Linked DNA regions of Homo sapiens. The protein of the gene in region 2 purifies or fractionates together with the protein of the main gene of each other region. This does not show direct contact. Each region holds a gene or a part of one and is shown on either strand. Other genes may lie near its edges. The genes, in order: RABGAP1, TEX35, BORCS5 and HEPHL1.

Region 1 (8,068 bases), on a different chromosome or scaffold from region 2:
CTGCTATGGAGAAGGGGGTTGAGGTGGTGAAGAGGGGCAGCAGAAGGCCTGGGAGCCTCATCTGTATGGTGCAGGGATGTGGAGGACAGGCGATAGGAAGAAAGAGGCTCTGAAAAGATGATGACAACTCCATGTCACTGCTTTTAAAGCTTTTAGCAGACCACAGCCGGCCCCCAGGTGCTCAGCCTGCCTTTCTACTCTTCAGCTGTTTCCCCTGCACATGCACACTTTGGCCCTGGAATTCCCTCTTCCATCTCTGCCTGGTGAGATGCTTTTGCCTTTGAAGGTCTAATTTGACCCTTACCTCCTGTAAGGCTTCCTTAAGCCTCAAAAACACCAAGTGTCCCTCATCCCTGCTACTACAGCATGTTATTTCTCAGAGGGGCAATGTTCATCATAAACAAACACAGAGGCATCAACGTCGTCATCTTGCCCCATGTGGCCTGCCACACCCTACCACTCCATACGTCTCAACAGGTGGGTGAGGGGCTGCCTCGCGCTCACACATGCCTCTCTTACAGCACACACAGTGGTCTTCTCTGACTGCTTCTGTGCGCAGGGGATGAGGGAAGAAGGGGAGGCGACAGGAGTAGGTGATGACAAAACTGGTTTTTACAAAGCAATGCTGTTTGTTTGTACCAAAATATTTAATCAATATGCTGTTAAAATAAAACCAACAAAAGAAACAGTAATACAATTTTACTGGTTTATATTTCAATTCATAAAGTTGACACACTGAAACTACCTTAGCACAATGTCCACACACCTAGCATTAGATAGGCTTACAGCTATTTTGGTAACTGAACAAGAAAGACACAGAAAGCAGCAAAGGGGATGGTTGGTGGGGAGGGGGTTGCCACTTGTTACCTCCCTTATTACAGATAACCTCAGCAAGCGTTAGTACAGCCAATAAGAAAAAGAGCTACAAAACAACCCGAGTGTCTTTATATACAAAACCAGTGCCTCTTGTAAGCAGCCGCCTCAACACTGAACGCAGAAAAGAGGACAAAACCATCTGCGTGTCAGCCTGTCAGCATATCACTATATAAATTAAAAGTCAAAGTTTTTTTTTTTTTTAAAGGTGCTAAAATCCATTCCATAGCTTTGAAGTGAGAACTTACAGCCCATCTGAACAGTGAGGTTTGTACCCAGGCATACTCTGAGGAGGGCCCAAAGGCCCAGCCCATCTGGGAGGGACAGGCCCGGAGGATGGAGACCTCGCAGCATGTGCACCCTGCGCAGACATTTACAGACACGCAACTCAGTCTTTCTCACTTGGACAACCTGTTGTGCAAAAACACTAGGAATCTTGAAGTGAGGGAGCTCTGTCCACAGCTCCCGTAATGGCAGGGAGGAGAGCAGAGCCCAATGAACCTTGAGTGAAATTAAGTGCTCGAATAACCACATAATTAAATTGTGCAGATCAGCAGTCCTAGTCTGGAATTTAAACACTGTCAACGGGGCATATTGGGAAAGATATTTATATATATATATACATACACACACACACACACACACACACACACACACAAACACATTAAGCAAAATAAGATTTGTCCATGTTATAATCCAGTCTCACAGTCAAGTCACCCACCCCAGCCTTTTGAAGTCATTTGGCAGCTAATGCTAAAAAGTAACAGGAACTATGAGAGTTGCATAGAATTGATCAGAAACATGAATAATGCCAAACCCAAAACCTGCACCATACAGTTTAACAGAACCAGGTGGCTTCAGATGCAACTATGAAACCCTCCTATTTAAAACAAAGTGCTTCTCCATGTCTACCTGGGGGACCTTCTGCTGGCATTGAAGCAGAAAAGAATTATTTGAATTTCTGATCCCTTGCCCCACCCCCACTATATATATATATATATATATATATATATATATATATATATATATATATGTATATTAAAAAAAAAAGGTTTAGAAAAAAAATCAACAGACTGAAGGATCCCCTAACTCTGATCATGTAAACTCAGCCTTTAGGCTGGGTGAGGTGTTGACGTACACGGGGAAGAGGCCTGGGAGGTCACACTGAGGAGTGATTTCTAGAGTGTCCAGAGCGTCGGCTGAGCTAGCAGGCCTGTTAGTATCAGTAGTCTTACCCCAGAGGTTGCCTGCTTCACAAGCTCTGGTCCAGTGACCTACCAACATGCGTCTATGGATCTGACTTAGGTACATTCTGGTCCTGGGACAAGTCACAGAATCACACATCTGGCCAAAGAAGGCAACAAAAGGTGTCGTGTTTTCTGAAGGTGTCGGGAGGCGGCAGCTGCTCTCAGCAAGTCTCTTTCCCTTGAACCCCGGTTGCTGTCTTTATGGAGCTCAGTGTTCGGTTAAACCACGTCTTCTTGGCTGCCTGCACCTCATTGAGGGCAAGCCCTAAATGGTGTTCCAAGTCCTGCAAGAGGAACAGTGTGCATGAGGATGCTGGGCTTGGTGTCAATGACACTGGCTCCCCAGAGGAGAACCAAGACAAGAATGCAGTCTATTTACTCTGGAGAGGCCTCGGGGAATTCCCCCAGTCTCCAACTGGCATAGAAATGCCTGAAATGCCTAAAGATTTGGGAGCTTTTAGTTAAGATCTAATTTCTTGCCTGGTCTATTTATTAAAACAGTCTTCTACTTGCTATGTCTCCCTCTTCTGTCCACCTAATGCACACCAGGCAGACAGGTAATGCTCTATTTCTGGTGACATCATTTCATTTTGGCAAAAATCTTTAAACTCCCTAGCATGGCATTTGAAATGCTTCGCAATCTGGATCCACACACTCTCTTCCAGCCTTAGCACCACCTCCATCCCCTACTGCAAGGAAAGAACTCCTGAGGGTCCTTCCTGGGCAGCCACTCTCCTCCTTGTGCTGCTGAACATGCCACTCCCTCTGCCTGGAATTGCCACTGTTCTCTCTCTCCTGTAGCTACAAGCCCTGTGCATTCTTTGATCACAGCACAGCTACTGCTGCCTTGGTGATGCCTTTCCTGATTATTCCGGGTAGTCACACTACCAGGCCTTAGCTTTGCAGTCCCAGACCTATAACAGGGCCTGCCAAAGAGCAGATGCCCAGTGAATGTGTGCCATGAGGGAGAATCAGCCCTAAAGCTTTTATCCTGAACTTGTTCCCTCCATAAACAGTGCTTAGGGTTTAGTGGTGCTGGTGGACCTAGCAATGTGTATTAAGATGACCAAAACAAGCCCTAACTTCTTTATCAGGAAAGGAGGCTCAGATAGGTAGTATATTAACAGTCACAAAGCTAGTTAAGTGGTGGGAACTGGAAGAACAAAAGCTTGCATTTATAAAGCCCCCGACATTCTGCCAAGCCATTTGTGCACACTATCTTACTTAGTCCTCAAACCAACCTATCAGATAGGGACTCTCATCATTTCCATTTGTAGATAAGGAACCTGAGATGTAGGGAGGTTACTAACCCAAGGTCAAACAGTTCAGTGGTAGAGCTGTGTTTCTAAAGCACTGTCTTCTCATCCCATCAAAAGATTCCAAGCTTTTGTGTATTATTCTCAATATGACAGCGGAAATCCTCAAGACAGGCCAAATACTGATGAGACATCCACTGGCCAGTAACAAGTCCTATATTTCTTCTCATGACAACTGTGACCAAAGTTTAAAAGGTGTGGAAAAACCCCAAACCATAAAGATAATTTCTGGGGTCTCTAGTGCACATCAGGAAACCCAGCCCGCAGGCACATGTCTGAGCTCTGCTGCTGTTACCTGTATCTTACACTCGGCCTCCACCAGCTGGAGTTTGGTCTGTGCCAGTTCTAGCTCCATTTCTCTCAGCTGGTTCTTGAGCGTCTCTTTCTCTTCATCCGTGTCCTCATCTAAAACCTCCTTGGTTGAGCTTATGCCTTTTACACGCCCTTCTTTGTTGAAAAATTCCCGGCACCGCTCACAGTCATCCACTTTTTGCTGAAATTGAATGTTAGATGTGAAGAGGCAAAGAAGAGGAACTGGCCCTTTAGGATGGTGTGAGCATCTCCTTTGGGGGACACCAAGAGACGGCTTCTCTGTTGAGCACTACAGTTTCTGAAAACCTGTGCTCTTTGTAAACTGGCAGATAACCTACTGGAAAAGCCACTTGGTATTATACACCAAAAATAATAAAATTATCATTGTCTTGATTCAGTAATCTCACTTCTAGGAACCCAGGCTGAAAAATGAAGCTGTAACTAGATAAAAATTTATGTACAAAAATTTTCACTGTAGAACTGGAGACAGGCAAAAAAGCAGGGGATAAACTATTCAAAAACAATTAAATATTAAATATACTGTGCTATATTTATACAAGGAAGTACACAGCCTCTAAAAGGTTTTTGAGGAACTTTTATAACATTGGAAAATGGATGCATGCTGGTTGAAATAGAACACAAAAATGTACATAAACTATGATTACAAATAAAATGTATTCCACATTTCATCAAAATAAGATGCCATTAACTGTAAGAAATGTCATTTTATGTTCCTCTAAGAAAACATTCTGCCAATTAAACCACAAAAAGCCAATTATAAAACATCCGACTTTCAGAGATGTAAATGTGAAAAGAAATGCTTATCTCAGAATGAATGAAATTTTAGACGTTAAACACTGAACAAAGACTGAAAGAATACACACCACAGTATTAATAAAGATGTTATATGTGGAAAATGGATCATAAGGGCTTTTTTCCCTTATTTACTCTTCTTTTCCAAATTTTCTGCAAGAATATTAAAGTTTTAGAATCAGAAAATAAGTTCTGTTTAAAAACCAGATCTGGTTGGCCAGGCGCAGTGGCTCACAGCTGTAATCCCAGCACTTTGGGAGGCCAAGGCGGGTGGATCACGAGCTCAGGAGTTCGAGACCAGCCTGGCCAAGATGGTGAAACCCTACCTCTACTAAAAATCGAAAAATTAGCTGGCACGGTGGCACAAGCCTGTAATCCCAGCTAGCTGGGAGGCGAGGAAGGAGAATAGCTTGAACCTGGGAGGCGGAGGTTGCAGTGAGCCGAGATGGCGCCACTGCACTCTAGCCTGGATGACAGAGCAAGACTCTGTCTCAAACACACACACACACACACACACACACACACACACACACACACACACACACACACATCTGGTTAAACATTAATTATGACGAAGGCCAGTGTCATCCTGCTCTAGGTAATGTTGCTTTGCGCAAACATAGCCATGAGCACAGAACTTTCCCAAGTTCCTGTCCTCTGAGCTGTAAATATGTTAGTGAGGCACTTTTCAGTAAATTGCTTATCTTAGTAAAATCTGACAAGTTCTGTAATACAGGTAGAACTTAAAGAAAGAAAGCACCATGTTATAAAAACTCCTAAGCTGCCAACAAAACATTAAACAATTAAAGTTCTAAACTGGGCGCAATGGTGCCCACCTGGAGTCCAGCAGCTCAGGCTGAGGGAGGGATTTCGCTTGAGCCCAGGATTTCAAGGCCAGCCTGGGCAACATAGTGAGACCCTGTCTCTAAAAATAAAAAAAAATAAAAATAAACTAAGGTCCTCATTGTAATTGGATGTGTTACAGCAGAAGGCATGAACTCAGAACAACACTGGAAAGTGACAAGCCACAGCACATGATTCTGACCTCTGCACTCCCACCACCTCAAGCAAGACCTATCACTTGCATGACTCCTTCTCCTCAGCATCACACTGCGGACATCGACTGCCTTACAGACATTTGGAAATCATGGGGCACTTGCACTTTGAGATCTAAAGCTAGAGCTTGTTTGATTTCATCTGTACACCCTTCCAGAGAAAACAGGCGTAGTGTTAGTTGTCAACTACTGAGCCAGGACCTGTGACAGGTGCCTTATTGCTTAGATTCTCTCACTTTTGAAATCAACTGCCTCCTCCCAAAACCTGTTTATACAGCCATAAAATGAAGTAGGTGGTATAAAATCTTTTAGGTAAAGAGAAGTCTTACCCGAATTTTCTCAATTTCCACCTTATTGGCTGTCTGCTGCTTCTCCAATCTTTCACTCAACTGAGAACAAATCTAAAGAAACAAATATAAAACAACAATCTCTTGAGCAATTGTAATCATCTGCATAAATTCCATAGTGGAAGCTGGAATATGTAAATTGGAATTAACATAGTAGCAAATAGCCTGCTACCGCTCAGGAGGGGATATGAAGTCGATGGATAAGCAGGGGTTCTTCTAGCTATGCCGCCTCTGCATTCACTGGCCTAGGACTTGCAGAAACCAAGCAGCACCACACTCAATGGCCAATGGTTTCTGAACACCTGCCAGACTCATGAGCCAGCAAGAGATCCTAGTGTAGGAGGGAACAAGACCATTCTGTTATGTTCTTAAAACTCAACCAGTCAGGGAAATAACCGGTTTAAAACTACACGTAAACAAAAGTTCGTAATTCTGAATCTGAAATACATACCAAAACATACTGTGGTTTTAAGTACCTACTATGTGCTGGGCACTGCCAGGCACTCTACAAACATGGTCTTTTTAAATCCTCGTAACAACCTTCCTAGGCAGGGATGATTTTCCTTCTTTTACAACTGAGAATAAGTGAAGCCACTTGTCAGTGCAGGGGCAGAGCCAGGATCTGAAACCAGGGTGCTTGCATTTGGGTTTGGGGGTGGGGGGCGGGTATACATTTTATCCAGACTAGGGGCTCCCAGATTACACAGCCCAATCCCAGGGTACTGGAACCTACCTGCTTATAGTCACCAATGATAGAACTGTTTTTTTTAATCTCAGATTCTGCCTTGTCGAGTTCCCGACGGCACATTTCTTTTAACTGCACACATAAAAAAACAAAAGGGACTATGTTAACAGAAAAATAAAGGAAGTTCTGCCACCAACCGCTTAGTGCTAGGCTTCCCAAAAACTGCTGAACCAAACCCTGGAAGTCCTCTAATTCAGCTACTTTCTTCCTTCAATCTTGGCAGCACTAATCCCCTGTTCCTGATGCAGGAGAGGGAGAGAACAGTTAAAACTTCCAAAAACGTCAGACCCCATTTCAGATTGAGGCTTCTGCTGAAGGTCTTCCCTGCCAGTACAAGCCAACCTGTGGACCTTCACTGACAGACCAGACACAAACCAAAGAGCTCATAAGAGGACTGCGGGTTTTCAGCATCTCATGGTTTCTGTAGAAAGGGCTTTGCAGTCTCTCACCCCAGCCAGTCCTGCCTCCTGGACGACCGTGGTGTGACAGGGGAGGGGACTGCTCCCAGGCGCACAGCACCCAGAGCTCTTCCCATGCCTGCAGGTCTGTGTCTCCAATGACTATGGAGCACTGGCTCAGAACAAGACTTCCCAAGCTTGCTCTATGAGGGAGACAGCAGAGGACAAGTAGGGAAACAGCCAGGCATTATATGATGTGTGCTTTCCTTCTGCAGGAATTCTACCCCCTCTTCTTTGTTATGCTCAGATGCTGATACACAGAAATTCTCCTGCCCCAACAAAGGATGGGCTTCAACCCACTGTCTCCTCCTAGACTTTAATTAGGAACCATTGGACTTTACACAGTAGGGGGAAAAAAAAAGTCTTTGGAAAGAAACTGAAGCCAGATGTCTCTAGGTTTTCTAGTGCCAACAGGAAGCCACCAGCTGAACTCCCAGTTCTCAAGCATTTGCAAGACAGAGGAATGTGGGAGAGTTCCCTTACCTGAGCAGACTCTTCTTCCAGCCGTCTTTTCTCTTCTTCTGCATCAATCAACTTCTGTTTGGTCATCAGCAGCTCCTTATTCAGAGCATCTGCCTTTTCCTCAGCCTGAAACATTTAAGATATGCTGTCACAAAACAAGAATTGGGAACTGCAAAGGATTTCCATTACTTAGCATAATCCCATTTTAAGATGATGGGGAAACTCTGATTCAGAGAGGGGAAATTATATCCCCAGGGTCACAATGAGAATACACTCATGCATAAGTGCCTGTCCCAGTCTCTTGCTCAGAGGTAGTGCAGGGCAGTAGTTAGGAGCTTAGCCTTTGGCATCAGACAGCCTGGACTCATCGCCCATTGTTCACTGACCATGTGCCACTTGGACAAGTCATTGAGAACCTCTCTAAGCTTCCGGCTCTTCAT
Region 2 (8,298 bases):
TGGCTTGACAAAGCACAGAGCATGTTATTGAGGTTAGTTGTGGCATCTTTCAGGCATTTTAAGCAAAGGGCAGTGGCTGCTTCTCTGGCATGGACTAATAATGGCCTGTTAGAGCCACTTTCTTCTCAAGGAGTCTGTGAAGGGACTAGGGTGCAAGCACCATCAAGTCACCACCACCATCAGCCTTGGCACGGCTTAGATCTGGCTACTGCAAGACTGCATGTGGAGCTTGAACCACAGCTTCGATTACACTTTCTTGCTCGATTATTCGCTTTTTTCCTAAGGATGCTACAGGTGGTTGGTTGGTTGTATCATAGAAATGAGAGGTTTCCTGCTTTGCAACTTGCTCAGGGGAAGTGAATAAGGAAGATGGGGTTGGTCCCTGACTTCCCCTAAATTCATATTCCAAATCAGCCCCTCTTACTCAGCTTCATCACTAAGGTGACATCACCCACCCTTACCAAAGAGACACTTTAGGGAGTCCTCAGTCACTCAAAAATTGGGTTTAGGCATCAAACAAGTAAGAAGTGAATAACCTAATACTGAAGTGCTCTGGGTATTAGGACTGAGTTACATTTTTCCATGCAATTCCTGCTTTCCTTCACTATTCAAACTTAAGGATTGCATTTTTCCTGAAGCTACACTTTCCCTCCATGATATGGAAGGCCTCATCTTCTTACCTGTTTTATCTCCTCCATTTTCTCCTTGAGCTCTTCTCTCACTTCCCTGAGTTCATTCTGAGGAAATAAAATGGAGAAGAGAAGGAGGAAAGAAATATCTAGGATGGAGGGGAAACCATCAACAGGAGGAAAGGAAAGATCCTGGGACACTGTCAGAGAAAAGCTTTCAATAGGGAGGAAAGAAAAGATGTTGTTGAGACAATAGGATAGACCAGGTGCACTGGCTCACACCTGTAATCCCAGCACTTTGGGAGGCCAAGGCGGGAGGATCACTTGAAACAAGGAGTTTGAAACCAGCCTGGGCAACATAGCGAGACCCCCACCCCCATCTCAAAATTAATTAATTAATTAATGTTTTAAAAAGACTATAAGATAGTGGGACCTACAGGCATCATGTGTCTCTGCCAAAAAATGCACAGCCTGAATCTCATCATGAGGAATCCAACAGACAAAGCCAAATTGAGGGTTATCCCACAACATAAGTGATCTGTAATCTGTAAAAATGTCAATGTCCCCAGACGAGGTGCAGTGGCTCAAACCTGTAATCCCAGCACTTCAGGAGGCCAAGGCAGACAGATCAGCTGAGGTCAGGAGTTCAAAACCAATATGGTGAAACCCTGTGTCTACTAAAAATACAAAAATTAGCTGGGCATGGTGGTGCACGCCTATAGTCCCAGATACTCGGGAGGCTGAGGCAGGAGAATTGCTTGAACTTGGGAGTTGGAGGTTGCAGTGAGCCTAGATCATGCCACTGCACTCCAGCCTGGGCGACAGAGGGAGACCTTGTCTCAAAAAATAAAATAAAAATAAATAAATGTCAGTGTACCCAAAGAAAAAGAACTGTTCTGTTCCAGATTATAGAAAAGACACCTGGTAATTCGAGGCAATGTGTGATCCTGGATCAGACCCTAGACCAGAAAACGTCCCCTTTCTGTTGTTATGCAACACATGTGTGGGACAACTGGTGAAATTAGAACAAGGGCTATAGATGAGTATTGTCTGTGTGTTAACTTCTGGATTTTGATAATTGCACTGTGCCTATGTAAGAGGATATTCTTGTATTTAGGAAACAGGCACTGAGGATTTGGGGAAAACTTACACTCACGTGGTTTGGAATATAGACATGCCTCCAAGTTCACGCACTCACCTTTAGGTCCTGTGTCACTCCTGCTTTGGTAAACCGCCCTTCTTGTTTAACTGCTTTGTAATCAAATGTCTGTGGATTGAAACAGGAACACAGACCTTTGGGAATTGCAGATGGGCGGTGGAAGTGCAGAGGCAGAAGAGATCCCCCTGTGTTTCTGTTCCTCCCTTAGGGCTAAGGCAAGAGGAAAGCTGGTGGCCCCACCTGTGCAGAAGGTTCCTCTATCCTCCTCCCTCTTTCAGCTCATCTTGTTCCACTCCCCTGCTGGCCCACGGGGCCTCAGCTCCTTTTGTCCCTTGAACAGCCAGGCTCATTCCCACCTTGGGCCTCAGTGCATGCTGCCTCCTCTGCCTAGAAGGCTCTTACTCTGCCTTTGCAAAGCCAGAGTCTTGTCCTTCAGCTCTCAGCTCAAAGGAAGGCCTTTCCCTACCACCCACTCCACGGCAGCCACTCAGACATGTCTCCCTGTCTTGATTCCCAGCAGAGCAGGTAACACTGCTGAATGAGTCCTTGTTCGTTTATGTATCTGATTGGTTACAGTGTGAAGTTCTATGAGAGCAAGAACTCTCAGTGCATCCCCCAGCACCTGGGACAAATCTTGGCCACTAGGATCAGCAAATGACCCCTGACTCCTGGTCACTTCCCCATGGATCTCAGGCCTGGCTGCCTGCATGGCCTCAAAAGGGCTTCTTACTTTGGTCGGCTCTGGCTTCAATTCCAGGCAAACTGCCTTGTAGTTCTTGCTCTGCAAAAAGAGGAGACTGAGATTCAGGCTGGCAGACATCAGGATTGGGGAGGAGAACATCTGGCCCTTGCACGGGAACCCTGCCCCCTGCCCCCCACAACCATGCAACCCTGCCTGTCCAACTGGCTTGAGCTCAGGCTCACAGACCCCGCAGCACCCGGATCCGATTCCTAACAAATCACATCTTGTCGTGCTGTCCTCTTCCTATGGGCGTGTGTCTGCCTATTTGGCAGGCAGCCCTCTCCCTGCTGGAGGCGCCAGCGTGGAGAAAGCACTTTAAGATAACTAGAAGCAAGCCCCGGAAGTGTTGTTTCCAGAGCAAGGGCTTTGGCCATAGGCAGATTTGCACTATAGTCTCAGCTGACCTCTCTACTATCTCTGTTATTTTGGGTGAGTTGCTTAGCCTCTCTGAGCCCCCATTTCCTCATCTATAAAATCGACGTGATGATTATATTTATCTAATAAGGTTATTCTGAGCCTTAGCCCTGCTGGTTAGATGTGGGCCTGGCAGGCCTGGCATGGGCCGTGGAACCATGAGTGGTCTTGGAGTAGGGAGTGCTCCCTTGGCAGTGCTCCTCATCCCCAGAGGGAGGCAGCAGAGGCCTCTTTCCTTCCCACCCCCAAGGCTAGGGATTAATCCCACACCCCTTCCAGACTGAGAGGCTGCTTTATGCTCAGTACAGAGAAAGAAAAACCAGAGATTCATGCGAGCATTCTCTGTATCCCTTGCCCCGACACCATCTCCATTCAGTAGGAGCTCAGAGAGGACCCACACTGTCCAGCAATGTCTCTCTTTTACCAGATGTGTTTTCTTCAATTCTGCCCTCTTGGCCGACATGATGGAGGAGGCCAGGGTGTTCTTCAACTCCCCACAACAGCCCCTGGGACCAGGCCACTGTCCTAGGCAACTTACAGGTCAAGGTGAGGGCAGGGTGACCACCCCTTTGTGTACGGAACAGCTGAGGTCACAATGCCAGGACCCACATGGTGGTCCAGAGCGTCACCACAGCTTCAGGCCTGGGGGGCTTCGGCCACTGAGATGAGGGGTTCAGGCCAGGTTTCAGAGTCCCACCAGGCCTCCCTCTTGCAACAGAAGGAAAGTCCACACTGAGGAGGATCATGGCCTGCTACGGTCGAAGTGCAAGGCACGCGTCAGAAGCAGTGGCTCCTTCTGCAGCAGGACTCACCTACTGACTCAGAAGGACGTCCTCCAGGGACAGCCAGCTCCTCCTCTGAGCGCACAGCCCATGTCCTCTGCTGTGCGCTCCTCGCGCGAACCGACCCCACCTCGGACCGGAAGCCACCTTGGGCTGGAGGATGCCATGAAGTCTCTCTGGTTCAACGTGCATGCACCGTCTCACTTAACCTGGGTTACTCTGTATGAGGTGGGGTAGCCAGTCTCAGCAGGATGGTTTCTGATGCCTCTGACCTCACACTGCCCCTGTCCCACAACCACCCCCAGACCCCTGCCCACCTAAAAATTCTCTTTTCCTAGTTCTTCTATCATCCGGGAAGAGGGTTGGGACAAGAAGCTAAAGATAAGAAGCTTTTCGGGCAAATGAAGAATACTAAAGAAAAGGCCATTCTGCGGGTAGCCATAGTTTGTGCTAAAGTAGACAGTCAGAGGAACATGGCACCCCATGGGATAAAAAATCACTGGGGATCTGGGTTGGTGAAATTGATTTCTCTTTTCCTCTTATCACTGGTCATTCACTTCCTTCTTCCCTCTCATTTCAACTGCTAGTTGCACAGAAAAGGCCAACATGGACATCTGAGGACAGACAGCACAGGAGTACAGGAACTAATGCAAATTGCATGTGAATGACATCCCCATGCAGGCCACTACTGACCACACTTACCCTCCCATTTCACACACCTGCTTGGGACTATCCTTCCTGGAGGCCACTGGAACTTCTGGAGCCACCTGCAGCACTTCTGATGCATTTCCTAGGTGGTGATTTCCCAGCCCTGACACTGGTGACAGCTGTGGGTCTTACTCCACCATAGCCAGAGGAGAATGTGTCTGCCACTGCATCAGCGGAAGGAGAGGGAGTTGGGGGTGGTCACCAGCTTCCCAGGCTTCACTTTCCCCACTTATAAATGAGGGGCTGGAACTTTTCAGTTTCCTTGGACCTTTTAATTCAGCCCTCTCAGATCTGATGGCCTCGTGGTAGGAATGCCCTTCCTCTAAGGGAATTACAGTGAAAATGACTGACTCCATCTCAACATCCACCAGCCCCGTGAAAATGTGCCCCACCTCCTTCTGCTAATTTTGGCTTGGGGGCCTCCTGGACCTGCAGTAGAGCTTCCCTTGCTTGGCTGAGCAGTTGTTAAATGAGCTGCCTTCTAGCCAAGCATAGCACATGAGCCCACTGGCCTATCTATTAGGAAAGAAGGTCTAAGAGAAATCAGGGTCTCAATGCAAAGCTGCATTATAAAGTAAAAAATTATCTATGTATATATACACAAGTACACATGGTATTATCATTTGGGCAGAATTTTAACTACAGAGCCACAGCTCTGGGCTTGTGCCTTCTCACAGCGTTTACTATTCATGTTCTCAAACATTGTACACCATTGTTTTATCGATATATTCTGGCGGGGCTGGGGGAATCCACGTGGCGAACCTGAATACTGATTATTTATTTATGAAGAGACAGGATCTTGCTCTTTCTCCCAGGCTGGAGTGCAGTGGTATGATCATGGATCATTGCAGTCTCGAACCCCTGGACTCAAGCAATTCTCCTGCCTCAGCATCCTGTGTAGCTGGGACCACAGGCATGCGCCACCCCACTCCCAGCTAATTTTTAAAATTTTTTTGTGGAGACAAGGTCTCACTATGTTGCTCAGGCTGATCTCCAACTCCTGAGCTCAAGGGATCCTCCCACCTCGGCCTCCCAGAGTGCTAGGATTGCAAGCATGAGCCACCATGCCCAGTCTGAATAATGATTCTCATATTCTTTTAAGAAGCTTTTGCACCTGCAAGAGAAACGAGGTTGAAGCAGTGTTGCAGTGTTGGTATTGCTGTGGTGTGACTTTGTTCTAGGTAAGCCATAGGACGTTCTTACTTGAAGAACGCCAGACACGCTTTTCCTAATCCCCCTTCAGGGCAAAACCCCTCTGTACCAGGGCAAGCAGCATAGAGCCCACTGCTGCTCCATCGGAGTTTGGGGGAAAAGGAATATTCACAACAGACAGAAAGAAGCAGCCACCTGTCTCTGTTCTCCAAGTTGATATCATTTGGGTTTCATTTTCTTTACAAGGGTCCTGCTTTTTTTTTTTCAGTTTTAAGGATACAGTGTTGTGAGGGGAGGCTGGGGTCGGGGGGAATTTTAAAATGGTTTTAAGCCTCTGAGTTTGGCATTTTGTGATTCTGGGTCTGGCCCATGATGAGGTCCAGGCTCAGCCACTCCCTGCGTCAAGGCCCAGAGAACATGAAGAGAACATCATGCGTGCTGAGGGGCCTATTCGACCACTGGGGGCCCAATGTTCTAAAGTCCTTTGATTAGGGTGGAACATTTCACAAAGACCCAGAATCCCACAGGCTTTGCTGTCCAGTCAAACTCAAACAGACACGGCTCAATACATGTGACCTAGACGACTCACACTTAGGATGCCCTGGCTGTTTACATCCCAACAGGCTGCAGTATCTGGGTGGCTGCCCTCAGCCAGAGACGATCTTACATGAGATCCTCTTACATGACATTTTTAGAGATCTCATATGATTGATTCCTGTGTCATCCTACTTGACTGATTTATAGACACCTTGGAAAGCTTTACTCCGAGCAGAGTAGAAATAGCTTTTATCATTGGCACACTGATTACTATGCAATTTCTGATCATTTTTATCATAGTGTATCAGACCTTGGCTGGAATCATAATCCTATTATGTTGTTTCTTTGGAAAATTTATATCCAGTTTTTATCATATGAACTTCCTGGTACCTCTATTTCAGCAACAAAACATAACAGTCTGAACAGATCATTGTAAATCTCTGGCTATTTCAATACAGCCAATGACAAGTGAAAAGTCTGAGCAAATGTATTGTGGAAGGATCTTCTCTGTAAGTTCACCATGACAGGCCTATGCTTGCCAGGGCCTTCTGAGACCCAGGGGAAACTGCTACTCTTCCCACAACCAACCATCACAGGGCACCTACCATGTGAGATAAAGACAACACCGCCAGCCAGCAGAGGCTCTCCCTGCTCCTGCCAAACAGGGCTCCTGAGGCCTCCTTACTTAGCCAGTTCCCTTTACCCTCTTTGGATGGAACCCAAATAGAGTACAGTGATGATTTCACGCCTGTCTCTCTCAGCTTCCCTGCCGGAAGGTGCTCTGCAGTTGAGATTCCCTCCCCTAATAGCCTCCTGTCCACCTCTGACAGCTTCAAATTCCCATCCATCACTGAAACAATCAAACTGAGTGGCACAGTAGCCTCTTGGGGCTGGCCTTGCTGGGGGACTATGCTTCACACAGGGTCCATGGAGAGTGGAACGTCTCAGATGGGAGGGTTTCTTGGGTTAGTCCTGGGAATAGCCCTCGTCTCTCCCACTCACATTCCTTTGGCTGGAATATAATCACAAGGCCATATCTCACTGCAAAAGAGGCTGGGAAATATGGCCAGGTTTCTCCCAAGAATAAGAGGAGACAGGCTTATGGGGCAGGCAGCTAATCTCCGCTATACTTTCCTGACACATTTCATCTTCCTTATTCTACTCTAACAAGTCTCCTCATAAGAAAACTTGATTTCGAGTTCTTCCACACTTAGGGTAAAAGGGAGGTAGCTTACAAGGTCCAAAATCCATGAAGTCAGTAGCTGGGTTTGGTGGTGCACGCCTGTGGTCCCAGCTACTTTAGAGGCTGAGGTGGAAGGATTGCTTGAGCCCAGGAGGCCAAGGCTGCAGTGAGCTAGGATCACACCACTGCACTCCAGTCTGGGCAACAGAATGAGACCCTGTCTAATTAAAAAACAAAAAACAAAAAAGAAGAGGAAACCTACACTGGACACTCAAACAGAATGAAATCTCCTAGCAAATGTGAACTGGAAGAGTTAGGATTAGGGTTAGGGACTCACCTCTGTGTCACCTGAATGGCCAGTGGGCTGGAGCATTGAGACAGAGACTGGAATAATGATCTGGTTTGTCCAGGGCTTTCCCGTGCAATAGTTCCAGTCTGTCCCAGTCCCAGTCTAACCCAGTCTCATTCTGTGGAAGGCCCTGCAAACCTCCCTCCCCACCACAGGCTTCTGCCCTTCTGCAGCACAGAATGTGGGTCTGGTCTACACTTCTCTTGCTGTTCTAAGCCCTCTGAGTAGCACTAGGGCCCAACCAAGTTGCCTCAGCTTTGCCAGCCCCTTCCTGAGGGGTGGGCCCTGCTGCTGTCTTCTTGGCTGAGAATCCATAACCTTCTTCAGCTGAACCTTTGTGTCCAGCCCCATGAAGCCACCTGAACTTGATTCCTGCCTGGAGATGCCAAATGCTAGGCCCCACCCACCGAACATGGCAATGACTCAGATTGAGCCAAGTTTTTCAGAACCCGGAGATACTGACTGCTGGTTGGCATCCAGTGGGGTCAGCCTGGCCATTGACTCTTTTACATCTGGTTTACCTCCTTCCCTTGAACGTTCTGCCCCCGAGGTCATTAGGACCTCAGAGCTGAGTCCATGTGAACATTGGCCCAGAAAGTTTGAATCCTCTTCTCTTGGTAGGGGTTTGGGCCTAGGCTGGAGA
Region 3 (7,724 bases), on a different chromosome or scaffold from region 2:
TGCCGGGAGGTGTGGAGGGAGAGGTGTGGAGGGAGAGGCATGGGCGGGAACCGGGGCTGCGCACGGTGCTTGCAGGCCAGTGCGAGTTCCAGGTGGGCGTGGGCTCAGCGGACCCTGCGCTCGGAGCAGCCAGCTGGCCCCACCGCCCGAGCAGTGAGGGGCTTTTAGCACCCGGGCCAGCAGCTGCTGTGCTCAATTTCTCACAGGGCCTTAGCTGCCTTCCCACAGGGCAGGGCTCAGGACCTGCAGCCCGCCATGCCTGAGCCTCCCCGAACTCCGTGGGCTCCTGTGCGGCCTGAGCCTCCCCGAGCGCCGCCCCCTGCTCCACAGCGCCCAGTCCCATCAACCAGCCAAGGGCTGAGGAGTGTGGGCACAGGGCGTGGGACTGGCAGGTAGCTCCACCTGCAGCTCTGGTGCAGGATCCACTGGGTGAAGCCAGCTGGGCTCCTGAGTCTGGTGGGGACTTGGAGAACCTTTATGTCTAGCTCAGGGATTGTAAATACACCAATCGGCACTCTGTATCTAGCTCAAGGTTTGTAAACACACCAATCAGCACCCTGTGTCTAGCTCAAGGTTCGTGAATGCACCAATCAACCCTCTGTATCTAGCTACTCTGGTGGGGCCTTGGAGAACATTTGTGTCTAGCTCAGGGATTGTAAACACACAAATCAGTGCCCTGTCAAAACAGACCACTCGGCTCTACCAATCAGCAGGATGTGGGTGGGGCCAGATAAGAGAATAAAAGCAGGCTGCCCGAGCCAGCGGTGGCAACCCGCTCGGGTCCCCTTCCACACTGTGGAAGCTTTGTTCTTTCGCTCTTTGCAATAAATCTTGCTACTGCTCACTCTTTGGGTCCACACTGCTTTTATGAGCTGTAACACTCACCGCAAAGGTCTGCAGCTTTACTCCTGAAGCCAGCGAGACCACGAGCCCACTGGGAGGAATGAACAACTCTGGACGCGCTGCCTTAAGAGCTGTAACACTCACCGCGAAGGTCTGCAGCTTCACTCCTGAGCCAGCGACACCACGAACCCACCAGAAGGAAGAAACTCCAAACACATCCGAACATCAGAAGGAACAAACTCCGGACACGCTGCCTTTAAGAACTGTAACACTCACTGTGAGGGTCCGCGACTTCATTCTTGAAGTCAGTGAAACCAAGAATCCACCAATTCCGGACATATTAGGAAGGTGTAGATTGAGATGTGAAGAAAAATAAGACAAAATTGGAGCCGAGTGTCCAAAGAGATTATGTGAAGGGTAGAGGGTGCATATGGGACTAGTTGATGGAAACTTTTTAGTCTCAACACGTTCACTGTTACTTTATCTTAAATACTCCTTTGGTTTTGTTTTTCTGAGAAGCAGGAATGTTTTAGATCTAGTAAACAAAATTTGTCTACGTAATTTTTCTGTGAATATTAGTCTTCTGCATCTAGAAATGGAAGCAGGAAGTAAACTATTTCTAGCTTCTGTGGGACCCATTCATCCTTGAACGGCCTAATTATACTTGGTTATATCTTTAAAGTTGCAGAATCAACTGGAAAATCACAGCATTGTCCTGGAAGATATTTACAAGTCAGTCATATTGTTGTACTTTATTTGCAGAGACAGCAATATGCACTTATGTAAAAACAGTTTCATTCTTTTGGTTCCAGCTCAAACACTAGAATCCGTTTGAAAATGCTGTCCCACAGGAAATGCAGGATGTGGCCGGTAGAAGCAATGTGACAGGCAAATAGGGTAACCTGAAGAGCATTCAGTAATGGTCTGTGTTCTCTGTCAGAATTATGACAATTCCAAAGACCAGAATGAAAGTACTTGGTGCAGAAAAGCTTTTCGCATAACTCATGCCTCAAGGAATGAGCCTTGATTGGTGAAGAAAATTGAGTCAACGGTAAATTCCATCAGATCTTACACTGACATTGATAACCCTGGAAAAATCCCGGAGGCATGGACACGCACACACCAGCATAACGCTGGTCATCCTGGCAGGCAACTAGATCTAGTTGCCAACTTTTTTATCTTTTTGGTTTGAAGCATGTGGATAATTATCTGGCTACCCTTTCCCTCTGTAGCCATAGCATTTGAATGGAAGAGACATGCCTGGTGTGTCAAAAAAAAAAAACCCACATGAAATTCAATGTTATTTATGACAGCAGTCCCCAACCTTTCTGGCACCAGGGACCCATTTCATAGAAGACAATTTTTCTACAGACAGGGAAGCAGGGGGATGGTTTCTGGATGAAACCGTTCCATCTCAGATCATCAGGCATTAGATTCTCATAAGGAGCGCAAAACCTAGATCCTTCACGTGCGCAGTTCACAATAGGGTTCACGCTCTTAGGGGAGTCTAATGCTGGGTCTGTTCTGACAGGAGGTGGAGCTCAGGCAGTGATGTGAGTGATGGGGAGCAGCTATAAATACACACGAAGCTGGCCAGGTGCAGTGGCTCACGCCTGTAATCCCAGTACTTTGGGAGGCCAAGTCGGGCAGATCACGAGGTCAGGAGTTTGAGACCTGCCTGGCCAACATGGTGAAACCCCATCTCTACTAAAAATAAAAAATTAGCCGGGTGTGGTGGCGGGCACCTGTAGTCCCAGCTACTCGGGAGGCTGAGACAGTATAACTGCTTGAACCCGGGAGGCGGAGGTTGCAGTGAGCCGAGATCGTGCCACTGCACTCCAGCCTGGGCAACAGAGCGAGACTCCATCTCAATAAACAACAACAACAACACGTGAAGCTTCACCTGCTCATCCGCCGCTCACCTCCTGCTGTGCAGCACACTTCCTCACACGCCACAGATGGGTACCAGTCTGTGGCCTGGGGTTTGGAGACCCCTGATTTATGGTAAGTTAGTGAACAATAATGCCACCTCCTCAGAGGCACTATATAGTTCTTAACAAAGGAATGAAGCGAAAGGTCAGGGAAAGAAAAGCAAAACTACTCTCGTGATTAAATTTCATACCTAAAAAGTCCACAAGAAGAAAAGTTTTCATTTCTCCCTAATCCATCCTTCAATCTTGAGTATCAACATTTTGAATAATTTCTGCTGAGCACTATATATCTGGGTTTGGCTGAAGTATAAACAAATCAGGAAGACCAAGTTTCCCAATTGCACTAGAATTTTAATACATGTCTGGTCACGTCTCTGACAATTCCTGGTTTTGCCTTGGGAATTACTAGGGGAAATGCCAAAGCTAAGTAAGTTCTACAAATCAACACAAAAGTGGCATACGTCATTCGCCCCAGGGCCATTAGTTTATGTAACCTTGTAAAACCGAGTTTGTAATACCTATAACGTAAGGGTAACAGTACCAACCTCTTTCATAACTGAAGAAGCCGCAAAGAAATACTCAGGATACAGAAACATATATACAGACGCACACATACATAAAATCAAACTTTTTTACTCAAAAAGCAGATTCTCCCAGACTAAACTCATTTCTAAACGGAGTTTCACTCTTGTTACCCAGGCCAGAGTGCAATGGCACGAACTTGGCTCACTGCAACCTCCGCCTCCCAGGTTCAAGCGATTCTCCCACCTTGGCCTCCCAAGTAGCGGGGATTACAGGCACCAGCCACCATGCCCGGGTAATTTCTGTATTTTTTTTAGTAGAGATGGGGTTTCACCATGTTGGTCAGGCTGGTCTGGAACTCCTGACCTCAGGTGATCCACTCGTCTCGGCCTCCCAAAGTGCTGGGATTACAGGTGTGAGCCACCGCGCCCGGCCTAAACTCATTTCTTGAATGTACTCCTATATCAGGGTATGGAGTCCTTGAAACTCATTTAATGAAATGTTTACTCTGTGCAGAGAATACTGGGTAGGTATCTAGGTTCAAAATATATTTCATATTTTAAGGATGTTATCATCTAAGACACAGGAAACTATATATGTGTGGTCTATAAAACCATATATAGCGTTACTAAGAATAAAACTTTGAGGGAAACAAAGACATGAAGGCCAGTTTCTACCAACCTTCCACTTTGACCAGGGAAACCAGGAGACTGCACATAGAGGCCTATTTGACTGTGTTCATCAACAGAAATGAACAGATTGCAAGATAAGCAAAACAGGCTCTAGAAAGAAGCAGCCAATGAACAGCTAATTTATAATTAAAAGGAAGAAAAGCAGCTGCACCTTGGGAGCTCGGAATTTAGTCACTACCAAGACCCAGGGCCACTGCTCAGAGACAAAAGGTAAACACGCTCATTGTAGTCAAGATGTATCGGAATCACAGACTTGGAATCTTAGAGCTGAAAGGGGCTTGAGAGCCCACCCAGACCTGCTCACGCTGTAGGAAGGCGGAAACTGAGGCTCAGGGAAATGAAATGGCTTGCCAAAGATTAAGGCTAGAAACGTCCAGCCAAGGGCTCTTTCACAACTCCTATCCCTGAAATATCCCATAACGGCCAGATAGGTCATGGGGTATTAACCAACAAAGAGATCCAGCATAACTGCTTCTTGAAATACAAATCACTCAGACTCCCAGGTTCCATCAGGAAATAGCAAAACATGAGAGGGAAAGGACTGGTAATGCCATGTTACCAGTCAGAGGTTCCATCAGAAAAGAACCACTAGGAATGATGTAGAAAGAGAGGATTGTGAAAGCGGTTTGAGCAATTAGAGGGGCTGGTGAAAGTCTCGGTTCGGCTGTTTCTTCTTCACCAGACCACAGGCCAGGCGGTTGGAAAGGATGGTGAGGGAGAGCAAGTACGACTGAGACCTGCAAGCCACAAGCTGGGACCTGCACCTGTCTCTCATCAGAGCCCGTGCTGGTCTCTCATCCCCAAACCTTCATCCTTGTGGCTGCAGACCAAGAAGCTGGTTCTCATACCCGGCCCAGGGTCTGGAAAAGCCAAAGGCAGAGTTCTGCGGGAGTGGGAGGAGCCGTGGGCCCAGCGGCTGCCCACACCACAAGTGCAGGAGATCCATGGTAACGTGCACGTGATGGAACAGGGCCTGACCTACATCCACTTCCAGTGAATACACATGGCTGTTGCTCTACTTCCACTTCCAAACCTCATGCAAATCTCTCTCGTGGCCAACCCTCACCAGAGAAACAAACAAGGAAGGGAATTCTGGGAACACAGTTCAGTTTAGCCAAGTTCACGACACTGCAGAAACCACAACATGCCATCAAAATATTAAACTAACTAGAATTCTTTCCGGGAGTATTGAATTTGCCTATTGTTCTTCTGCCATACTTCTCCGCTTCCACCCAGTAATAAGTAGCCTATCACCTACTCAGGACCCCAGTCTAAGTGAACCCCATGTTTTGTCTAACTTCTACTTTAGAAGTAGACACAGTTGGCTGGAGAGCTGGCTGACTGCGTGGTTTGTTTGTGCTGCACTAGGTCTGCCATCCTGCCCTGTGCCAGCCACTAACAGCTGCAGCAGTGGAAAGGCTCGGCCCTCGCAGGCTTGAACTGCCACCCACTCTGTGCTTTCATGTGTCACCTGTATTAAGTGCAGTGAGGATAATGGCACCTAAGCTATTTTTGTAGCTCTGTAAACAGCCCTTCATTCCTCGAAGCTACAAACATATCCCTGTGTTCAGAACCAGGTTCTGTATACTCCAGAAGAAAGACAATGATGGTGATGTCTTAAATATACCACTTTTTGTCAATCTAGGTGAAAGAAATATGAATATTCATTGTATTATTCTTTTGAATTTGAAAATGTAAAATTAATTAATTTTTTTTAATTAGCTGGATTTGGTGGCACACACCTGTAATCCCAGCTACTCAGGAGTCTGAGGCGTGAGGATCCCCGGAGCCCGGGAGTTTGAGGAGTCAGTGTGCTATGATTGCGCCACTGCACTCCAGCCTGAGCAACAGCACAAGACCCTGTCTCAAACCAAGATTAGAATCAGATCAAGTTTAGCCAAGATACATTAAATTAAGCGCATCAATTTTAATCTTGTGAATCTACTGAAGGCTCTTTCTGGTATCTGAAAACACACCTCCCGACGCTTGCAGGAACTTAGGGAACAGGGTACAGGCCTGCATGCCGTCCTGGCCCCAGCGACTCCCTTCAGCTCTGACTTTTAGTCTCAAGGTGTCTGCCTAGGTCTGCTCCTCACATTCCACTCTTTGCTTCTCCAGTCCTTGCTTCCATTAGAACACCTATGATGTGTAAAGTACGACACTAAGCACTTTTGTTGTTACTCAAATAACTTCCTTTCCTAAACTCCCAGAGAAATTCAGCAGCTTTTTGAGCTTTTTTCTTTTCAGAAATGAAGGCCTGAGGCTATACGGCCATATTTGTATCCCTGGCACAATATTGGACACATCAAATGGGTTCAAGAAATGTCTGTGGAATGAGACATCTCTGCAGTCAAAGAAAGCTAAACTATGTCTGCATCAAGGAAACCGGTTATCAGTGGAGATGAATCTGATGAGGGTGTGGAAAGGAAGGCTTCAGCTTCTGATGACGACTAAGGGACACCTAACCTGACAGTCAACAAAATGCCAGTGTTCCACCTGGGCAGGAAGACGCGCCCCAGATAAGGGCTTGGTGTGACGGAAACAGTCAGGGTAGAAACAGGAACAATACAGAGACCTAGATTCAATTAGTTTTTCAAGTTGACCACACATAAACCAGACAGCCTACTGAAAAGTTCATGAGGGCGTTGAGAACACAGAGCTTCGTAAAATATTTTCCCCTTGTCTCCATATTTTTATTCCGGTACCTGGACTGGACTATATACTCTCAATTAAAAAAAAAAAAAAACTAAATAAAAATAATTCTCAATGCAGAGTTCTTCAAAGAATTCCTAATAATTCACACGTTCCAGCTTCAGTTATCACCGAGAACTGGTTAGGTTCCTTCCACACCGGGAAACTGCATCAAGGAAAAGAGCTGGGCAAAGTCAGATTTTCATGCCAGCCGGACTCCTTCGCACCCACTTTCAGGGAGCCTCCCGCCAGCCTCCAGACCTGGTCAGATGATATGACCTTAGCTCCACACGTCCTCAGGGTGTCGGTGTCTGGGGCTCCCAGCCCCAGGCAGGCCGGGCAGCAGCTACAGCCTGAGCTCGCGGTCGGGCTTCATGCTGAAGGGCTCCAGCCGCTCGCCCTCGGGCAGCATGCTGTTGAGCCTGTCCAGCAGGGGCACAGTCTGGTCGATGCCCATCTGTATGCGGCGGAGGATGGCGGACATCTCGTTCACTTTCTGGATCTGCTCGGCATACTTGGCGTATCTTTTCTGGCGCTCCTGCATGAAGCTGAACAGAGTTTCTACAGACAGATCCATCTGTGGATGGGAAAGAGAAGTACATTATACCTTGTTTAATCAAGTCCTCTCCGCAGGGCCGGGTGTCCAGCCTGTGAGGGACACAGTCCCGCAGATCCAGTGGAAGCTGACAAGTTTTACAGGAAGCACCCAGGGCTAAAAAGCCCTTCAGGGACACAGCTTTATCAACTGTTGTGCCAGAACCACCTTTAGAAGAGAACTGAGAGGGGACTGTCCCTGGCTCTATGTTCTGGGAATGTGCGTTATTTGTACCTTGTTGAGATCCTGAGATTTCTATCTCCCTATATGAGGGGAATTCTGGATGTGGAAATCAGTCAGGCCAAGGCTGAATCTGGCTCTGTCACGTGTATGAGCTGCTAATGCTTATCCTTTGTGTCTCAGGTTGCTTATCTAGAAAAAAACTAGGAGCAGATGGGCGTGGTGGTGTGTGCGTGTAATCCCAGCTACTTGGGAGGCTGAGGTGGGAGG
Region 4 (7,423 bases), on a different chromosome or scaffold from region 2:
AAACATTTGTGCACATGTTTTTGTGTGAACATATGTTTTCATTTTCCTTGAGAAAATACCTAGAAGTAGGATTGCTAAGCCATGTGATAAGTGTATGTTTGATTTCATAAGAAACCACCAAACTGTTTTCCAAAAAGGCAGTATCATTTTGCATTTCCAAGGAAATATACGAGAACTCCATATGTTGCACATCCACATATGCAGTTGGTATTTTTAGTTTTTATTTCATTTTTTTCCCTTAGGCATTCCCTCCTTGGGGAGGGGATATAGTGGTATCTCATTGTTTTTCATTTACATTTTCCCAGTGGCTAATGATATTGAGCATCTTTTCATGTGTTTGTTTACCATCTGTCATCTGTAAATCTTTGGTGAAGTGTCCAAATTGTAAGCCCATTTAAAAAAATTGGGTTACTTGTTTCCTTATTGTAGAGTTTGAGGGCTTTATATATTCTGGATACAAATCCTTTTTCAGTGATGTGACTCACAAATATTTGCTTCCAGTTTGTGGCTTATCTTTTCATTCTCTTAACAGCTTTCAAATAGAAGTTCTTAATTTTTGATGAAGTAAAATGAAGTACAATTTTTCTTTTTTCTCTTTTATAGATCATACTTTTGGTGTCATGTATAAAAAATTTTGGCCTTACTGAAGGTCCCAAAAAAGGTCTCTGTTTTCTTTTAGAAGTGGTATAGTTTTAGATTTAGGGCTCTGATACATTTTAATTTTCATATGTGGTTCAAGATATGAAATAAGGTTCATTTTTTTTTCATATATATGTCCAAATGTTCCATCACCACTCATTGAAAAGATCATCTTTTTTTCCCACAGAATTGACTCTTTACTTTTGTGAAAATCATATTGACCACATATATGTGGGTCTATGTCTGGGCGGTCTCTTCTGTTACACTGGTTTATACTCTGCCCTTTCTTGAATGCCACAATGTTTTGATTACTTTAGTATTATAGTAAGTCTCAAAATCAGATGGTGATTGTTTTAGCTATTCTAGATGTTTGCCTTCCCAGATAAATTTTAGAAATAATTTGTTGATTTTGATTTTTAAAATCCTGTTGGGATTTTGATTGGTATTGCACTGAAGCTATACAATGGGTTGGACAGAACTGACATAACAATATTGAGGCTTCCAATCCATGAACATGGTATATCTATCGTTTAGCTCTTCTTTGATTTCTTTCATCAGCATTTTGTAGTTTTCAATATAGAGATCTTGCATATACTTTGTTTTATTTATTTATAACTAAGTATATAAAAGGCTTTGGTAATAGTGTAAATGATAGTGTTTTTATTTTGATTTATAGTTGTTTATTGCCAATATTTAGAAATATAATTGATATTTGCATGTTGACCTTGCATCCTGCATCTTTGCTAAACTCACTTTAGTTCCAATAGTTTTCCTATAGATTTTAGGGGGATTTTCTATGCAGACAATCATGTTGTCTGTGAATAGACATGGCTTCATTTATTTTCAATCTGTATGTCTTTTATTTCTTTTGTCTTACTGCAATGGCTAGGACCTGTAGTGCAATTTTGAATATGAGTGGTGAAAGTGGACATCCTCAGTTTGTTCTTAATCTTACAAGGGGAGCATTTAGTCATTCACCTTTGAATATAAAGTTAGCTGCAGCTTTTTTGTGGATCCCATTATGAGGTTGAGGAAATTTCCTTCTAAATTTGCTCAGAGTTTTGATCATCAACAAATGTTAAATTCTATCAAATGGTTTTTCTGCATCTATTGAGATGATCAGATGCTTTTTCTTCTTTAATCTGTTGCTGAATTACATTTATTGATTGTGGAGTTTTTAAACACTTTTTCATTCCCAGGATAAACCTTACTTGGTCATGATGTATTATTCCTTTTTGTGGAATTGATTTGCTAGTATTTTGTTATGGATGATGGTATCTATGTTCATGAGGAGTATTGATTGTAGCTTTTTTTCCTCACAAAGCATTTGTTTAGTTTTGGTATCACAGTAATGCTGGCCTCATAAAATGAGTTGGAACTGTTCTTTCCTCTTCTATTTTCCAGAACAGTTTGTTTACAATTGGTATTATTTCTCCATTAAATGTTTGGTAGAATTTGCCAATAAAGCCATCTGGAGTTTAATTTGTTGGAATATCTTGAAGCAATTACAGTTTCTTTAATAGATATAGTGCTATCCAGGTTATCAATGTATTCTTGAGTAATCTTCAGGAGTTTGTGTCTTTTAAGGGATTTGTTCATACCATCTAAGTTGTACAATTTTTGGATAAGAGGTGTTTGTCCAGTATTTCCTTTTTAATATTTGTAAGATTTTAGTGATGTCCTCACTTTCATTCTCAGTATTTTTAATGTGTCCTTTTCCCTTTTCCCTTGGTTAGTCTGTCCAGAGATTTGTATTAGTTATCTATTGCTGCATAACAAATTACTCTAAACTTAGAGTAATTCTTGGATCAGGAATTTGGGATTAGTTTAACTAGTTGGTTGATTCAGAATCTTTCATGAGGAGGCAATCAAGATGTCGACTGGAGCTGCAGTTTTCAAAGGTTTGACTGGAGCTGGAGGATCCACTTCCAAACTTACTGATATGGTTGTTAACTAGAGGGTTCAGCTCCTGATCATGTGGATAAGACATGAAAACTGGCTTCCTCCAGTGAGTAATCCAAGAGAAGAGGGTGACAGAGTATCTAACACAGAAGTAATGATAACCTAATCTTGGAATTGGAATGCCAGCACTTCTTCCACATGCTATTGATTTCGCATACCAACCCTTATACAATGTAGGTAGGAACCACAAAGGTTATGAATACCAGGAGGTGGGGATCATTGTGGGCCATCATGGAAGCTGGCTACTACAGAATTTATTGATTTTATTGATCTGTTCAAAGAATCAGTTTTAGATTTCTTTGACTTATCTCTATTGTACTTCTATTCTTGATTCCTGCTCTTTCTTATGTCCTTCCTTTTGCTTACTGTGGGTTTTATTTGTTTTTGCTCTTCTTTCTGTTCTTGCTGTTCTGAGCAAAGAAGGCTACTAGCTGTTGTTTTTTAAAACGTTTTTGCAGATAGATAAATCTTACCGAGAAGATGTGTATGATCTCTTTCCTGGGACATTCCAAACCATTGAACTGTTTGCAGATCACCCAGGGACATGGCTGCTACACTGTCATGTGTCTGACCACATCCATGCTGGCATGGAGACAACCTACACGGTCCTTCGTAACATAGGTACGGTTGTCTGTCAGTGATGCCAGATGATGGCACCGAGCTTCCTGTAGACCCCCAAAACAGGAGGCATGACAAAAACCCAGATATAGCCCTCAACAAGCTCAGAGTCAAGTAAGAGAGACATATATGTAAATATGTAACTATAATCAAGTATGCTATGTGCCGTAGCAGAATGCAGAGTACAGGGCTTAATAGCAGCAGTAGGAGTGAATGGGTAACAGTTGGAGGATATGAGCCAAAGTTTCACAGAGGCCATGATGCTCCAGATAGACTCAGTGGGTGAGCAGAAGTGGGAAAGACAGCTGGGGCAGGAAAGCATGTACATGGGAATGAAGTAGCACAGTAAGAATCCAGAAATGATTGGCAGATACTGATGGGATAAGTCCTCGCTGGTGAAATGAAATGACTAGTGTCATGAAAAGAATCCCCTTCTGTTGTTAATAAAACAATGAACTTGTTTTCTTTGTGCAGACAACAGGATTCCTTACTCCACCACATCTCCTGGAGTGGCATCTCACCCAGCCACGGTGCCATCTAACGGTAATGATACCCTCTCCCCATGTAAATGAGTCAACATTTCACCCCTCAAAAATGTCAGGGGCCTGACAAGTTTATCTTTTTCACAGAACGACCTGGCAAAGAGCAGCTCTATTTCTTTGGCAAGAATCTGGGTCCAACAGGAGCCAAGGCAGCCTTGGTCATCCTTTTCATCATTGGACTCCTCCTTCTAATCACCACGGTGATTCTCTCCCTCAGACTCTGCTCTGCAATGAAGCAGACAGATTACCAGCAAGTCCAGTCCTGTGCTCTCCCCACGGATGCTCTGTGAACCATCTGGTCTCCCTCAACAGGAAAGGGTGATGTCCCACAGCTGGCCAGATGGCAGCCAACAGGGAAACTGGACCAAGGCATCACTCACCAAGGAAGGTTGACACTGTATCCTGGATCAGCCTTCTGATCCTCTCAAACATCATCCAAAGCAATTTGCTTTTATTTATTTATTTTTAAATGGGCTGCGAATAATCCTCAGGTATAAAACACAGAAAAAGGAGAATGGGCATGGCTGAGAATGTCAACTCTTAGTCTATTCTTTGGTTGGATTCACTGAATAGGAGACACTCTGAAAGATATCTTTATATTCCATCTTTTATAATTCTTGAACAGTGCTTTCTTAGCTAACCACCAAAGTTTCTAGGTGAACAGCTTCTAGAAAAAGTTAGAGTGCCTCAGACATTTAACTGGAAGGGCACTACTTTTTCAACATTGTTGCATAACATGCATCCCTTGGTTCTGTGGAAAATATCTTTCTTAGGAGTTCTTGGCAATGTCTAAGTCAGTGTCTGCTGATAGAATTAGACCAAATAAATTTTTTGGAGGCTTTAACCAGCTCTCCTGGCCTTTTCCTCTTTGATATAAATAGCCTGTGCAGTGCTTGTTTTAAAAAGCAAAGTTATACGTTTTTTAAAAAATTGCTGCTGTTTTTATTCAAACCTGTAGAAATACTTGAATGTTTACAACTCACTTCATGTTACATGTTTTTACAATATGTTTCTGTGGCAATGTTTGTACTTTCAAAAATCAAGTAGAGAAATTGTATTTCTACTGCAGACTGTGGGAGGGCTGAAATCTGTAAAAGAACATGTTAGGCTCTCCCTTTATGAATCAGGGACTCCCTGAGAGTTTAGAGCAAGCTTTCTATCAGGGAGGGAAGCTTTGCAGGAGGCAAGTCTGGGCTTGAATTTGGAGTCTGATTTTTCATTCAGTTAGAGGGAATCTTTACAAGTCCTCATCTTCTATGAAATTATAACATTCTCATTGTATGAGAAACATCAGGAGGAATTTATCAATGTAGGTGACTAGATAGGAGAAGGGACCTCTAAATATCCTAGATTCTATGGCTTTTAAAGACATACCTCTTCATGGAAGGAGAAAAAAGGAAAAGGAAAGGTGAGAAAAAGATAATCTTGGTGGCAGATTCTCTTAAACCATTAAACCAGCTTTGAAAATTAATAAATAATTTCCAAGGTTCAAATGCAAAAAAATTATTGAACAACTAAACTCAACCCATTATGAGGCAATCTACACTGTCCATACCTATGCTTAGACAGTAGGTGTAAGATTGATAAAAGTAACATTGTTTATTACAAGACTGAGAAATTGCTTTTAGCTCTGGGCGAGATGCCCTGAGATTCCAATGCCAATGCTAGATGAGTGATACTGGTATGCCTGCCTTAGCAGTGGGTAATTTGAATGTCAAAGTGAGTGACAAGGACCTAAGAAATATTCTGGTGGAGGGACCTTTCACACTGTCTCATCTTCATCTTCATGAGGGGAAATGGGTAATTGGATAGAAGCTATAGTCTTAACATAAAAGGGGATGCAAATGCTAATAGTTCTGTTCATAGTTTGCTTGAATGTCATATCAAACAGCATACACAAAAGATTTTGAATTTCAATCTGCTAACCATTGACAATGTGATTTCATAGTACATGTTCTACAGTTTTCATACATGTGTAGGCTGCATAATTTCATAATTATGGTAAATGCCTTATTTATTACCCACCTTAGTAAGACAAGTTGTTCAGTTGTTTTTTTTTCTTTTCAGTTTATTTTTTTAATGAAAACAAAACCACAAAGTAGTTTGATTGCATCATTTATCATTTTAATAAAGTGTCACATAAGGTGGCTATTTGCATGGTTATTTTCACTTAAAATTATCTATCACTGAACTAGGGGAGGTGGTTAAAGTGGAATTAATTTTTAGATATTTAGGGGCTATGACTATGCCAATGACACTTGTTAGAGGAAATGAAACAAAATAGTGTATCTCCACAAATAATATGACTTCTCAAACATTGTTTCCTCAAACATAACTACACTCCTTGTTCTCAGCCTCACTCTTGAGAAAATCAACTCTGCCTTCACTTACACACATATTTCTTCCTATTACAATACACGTGTCCCTGCTCCTAGCAGGACAGTCTCTTCATTTGACTTTGGGTCTCATTGCTTCTTGCTTTCTCAAGACTTCATTCCCTTGGGTATCCATTTTTCCTCCTGCATCTTTCTATGAAACCATCAGCAATGTCCGCCATTAAAAACAGAAAGCAATGTGCTGTCTTATTTAACTCTATAACCCCCTCCGACACAGTTTCTCTCTTCCTTTGATAGCAGAACATAGAGGTATTCACACTTGGTGCCTGTACTACCTCACCCCATGCATTCCTCAGCCCATTCTGATGGCTTTCAATCCAGCGTGCCCAGCCCCCACACCCCAATCTGCTGTGGTAGAGATCACCAATCATGATGCCATTTCCAGTGGCTTCTTCTCCATCTTTATCTTACTCAACCTCTCAGCAACAAGAAACAGCTCCTTCCTTCTGAACACTCGGAGTCTCTAGTCCCTTGGCTCTGCAACATGACTCTCTGCCAGCCTTCCTTCTTCCTCAATGACTATTCCTTCTCAATCTCTTTTTCTAGTTCCTTCTCTTCTGTCTGACCTAAATGTTAGCATGCCTCAGAACTTGACACTGGGTCCTTTTTCGCTTTTTACCCTCTGTGGTAGGCTGAATATTGCCCCAAAGATGTCATGTCCTAATCCCTGAACCTGTGAATGTCACCCTATGTGGCAAAAGGGACTTTGCAGGTATGATTAAGGATCTTGAAGATAGGAAATTTATACTGGATTATCCATAATGGCCCTATATGTAATCATGAGTGTCCTTATGAAAGAGAGGCAGTGGGAGATTTGGCTACAGAAGAAGGCAATATGACAACCAAGACAAGATGCCATGCTGCTGGCTTTGGAGATGGAGGAAAGGGCCATGGGCCAGGGAATGCAAGGAATGCATCTCCAGAAGCTGGGAAAGGTAAGGGAAAGGATTTTCCTCTAGAGCCTCCAGAGAGAGGTTGGCCTTGCAGATATCTTGAAACTGATTTTGGACTTCAGAGGTCCAGAACTGTAAGAGAAGAAATGTGTGCCAACAAGTTTGTGGTAATGTGTTACCAGCCACTCCATAGTTTATTTTATCCATCCTTATGATCGGAAAACCATTTTTATGCAAACAAATTCAAAATGTATTTCTCTAACCCTGACCTTGGGCTGCAGATTCACACAAATCCTGCTTGAGTAGGGCCACTGCAGCAGTCCCCAAACCAGCCTCTCCATCATCACTACTGCTCCTTTCCACCACTGTCCAC

Evidence for each region.
Region 1: the proteins of TEX35 (region 2) and RABGAP1 purify together in Homo sapiens (affinity purification with mass spectrometry; 3 studies listed by BioGRID and IntAct, with this or other methods). This does not show direct contact.
Region 3: the proteins of TEX35 (region 2) and BORCS5 purify together in Homo sapiens (affinity purification with mass spectrometry; 3 studies listed by BioGRID and IntAct, with this or other methods). This does not show direct contact.
Region 4: the proteins of TEX35 (region 2) and HEPHL1 purify together in Homo sapiens (affinity purification with mass spectrometry; 3 studies listed by BioGRID and IntAct, with this or other methods). This does not show direct contact.

What each region holds. Positions count from the first base shown.
Region 1 is NC_000009.12:123,097,427-123,105,494, reverse strand, and holds the end of RABGAP1 (rab GTPase-activating protein 1), read right to left. Parts: intron 7,755-8,068; coding exon 7,650-7,754; intron 6,781-7,649; coding exon 6,697-6,780; intron 6,018-6,696; coding exon 5,946-6,017; intron 3,930-5,945; coding exon 3,732-3,929; intron 2,405-3,731; coding exon 2,282-2,404; 3' UTR 629-2,281; downstream 1-628. UniProt on the Homo sapiens protein: May act as a GTPase-activating protein of RAB6A. May play a role in microtubule nucleation by centrosome. May participate in a RAB6A-mediated pathway involved in the metaphase-anaphase transition.
Region 2 is NC_000001.11:178,508,298-178,516,595, reverse strand, and holds the start of TEX35 (testis-expressed protein 35), read right to left. Parts: upstream 3,488-8,298; 5' UTR 3,408-3,487; coding exon 3,369-3,407; coding exon of another isoform or gene 3,345-3,368; intron 2,570-3,344; coding exon 2,519-2,569; intron 1,897-2,518; coding exon 1,828-1,896; intron 738-1,827; coding exon 681-737; intron 1-680.
Region 3 is NC_000012.12:12,465,078-12,472,801, reverse strand, and holds the end of BORCS5 (BLOC-1-related complex subunit 5), read right to left. Parts: intron 7,257-7,724; coding exon 7,026-7,256; 3' UTR 1,569-7,025; downstream 1-1,568.
Region 4 is NC_000011.10:94,107,844-94,115,266, forward strand, and holds the end of HEPHL1 (ferroxidase HEPHL1 precursor), read left to right. Parts: intron 1-3,059; coding exon 3,060-3,222; intron 3,223-3,693; coding exon 3,694-3,762; intron 3,763-3,848; coding exon 3,849-4,051; 3' UTR 4,052-6,365; downstream 6,366-7,423. UniProt on the Homo sapiens protein: Is a copper-binding glycoprotein with ferroxidase activity. It oxidizes Fe(2+) to Fe(3+) without releasing radical oxygen species. May be involved in the regulation of intracellular iron content.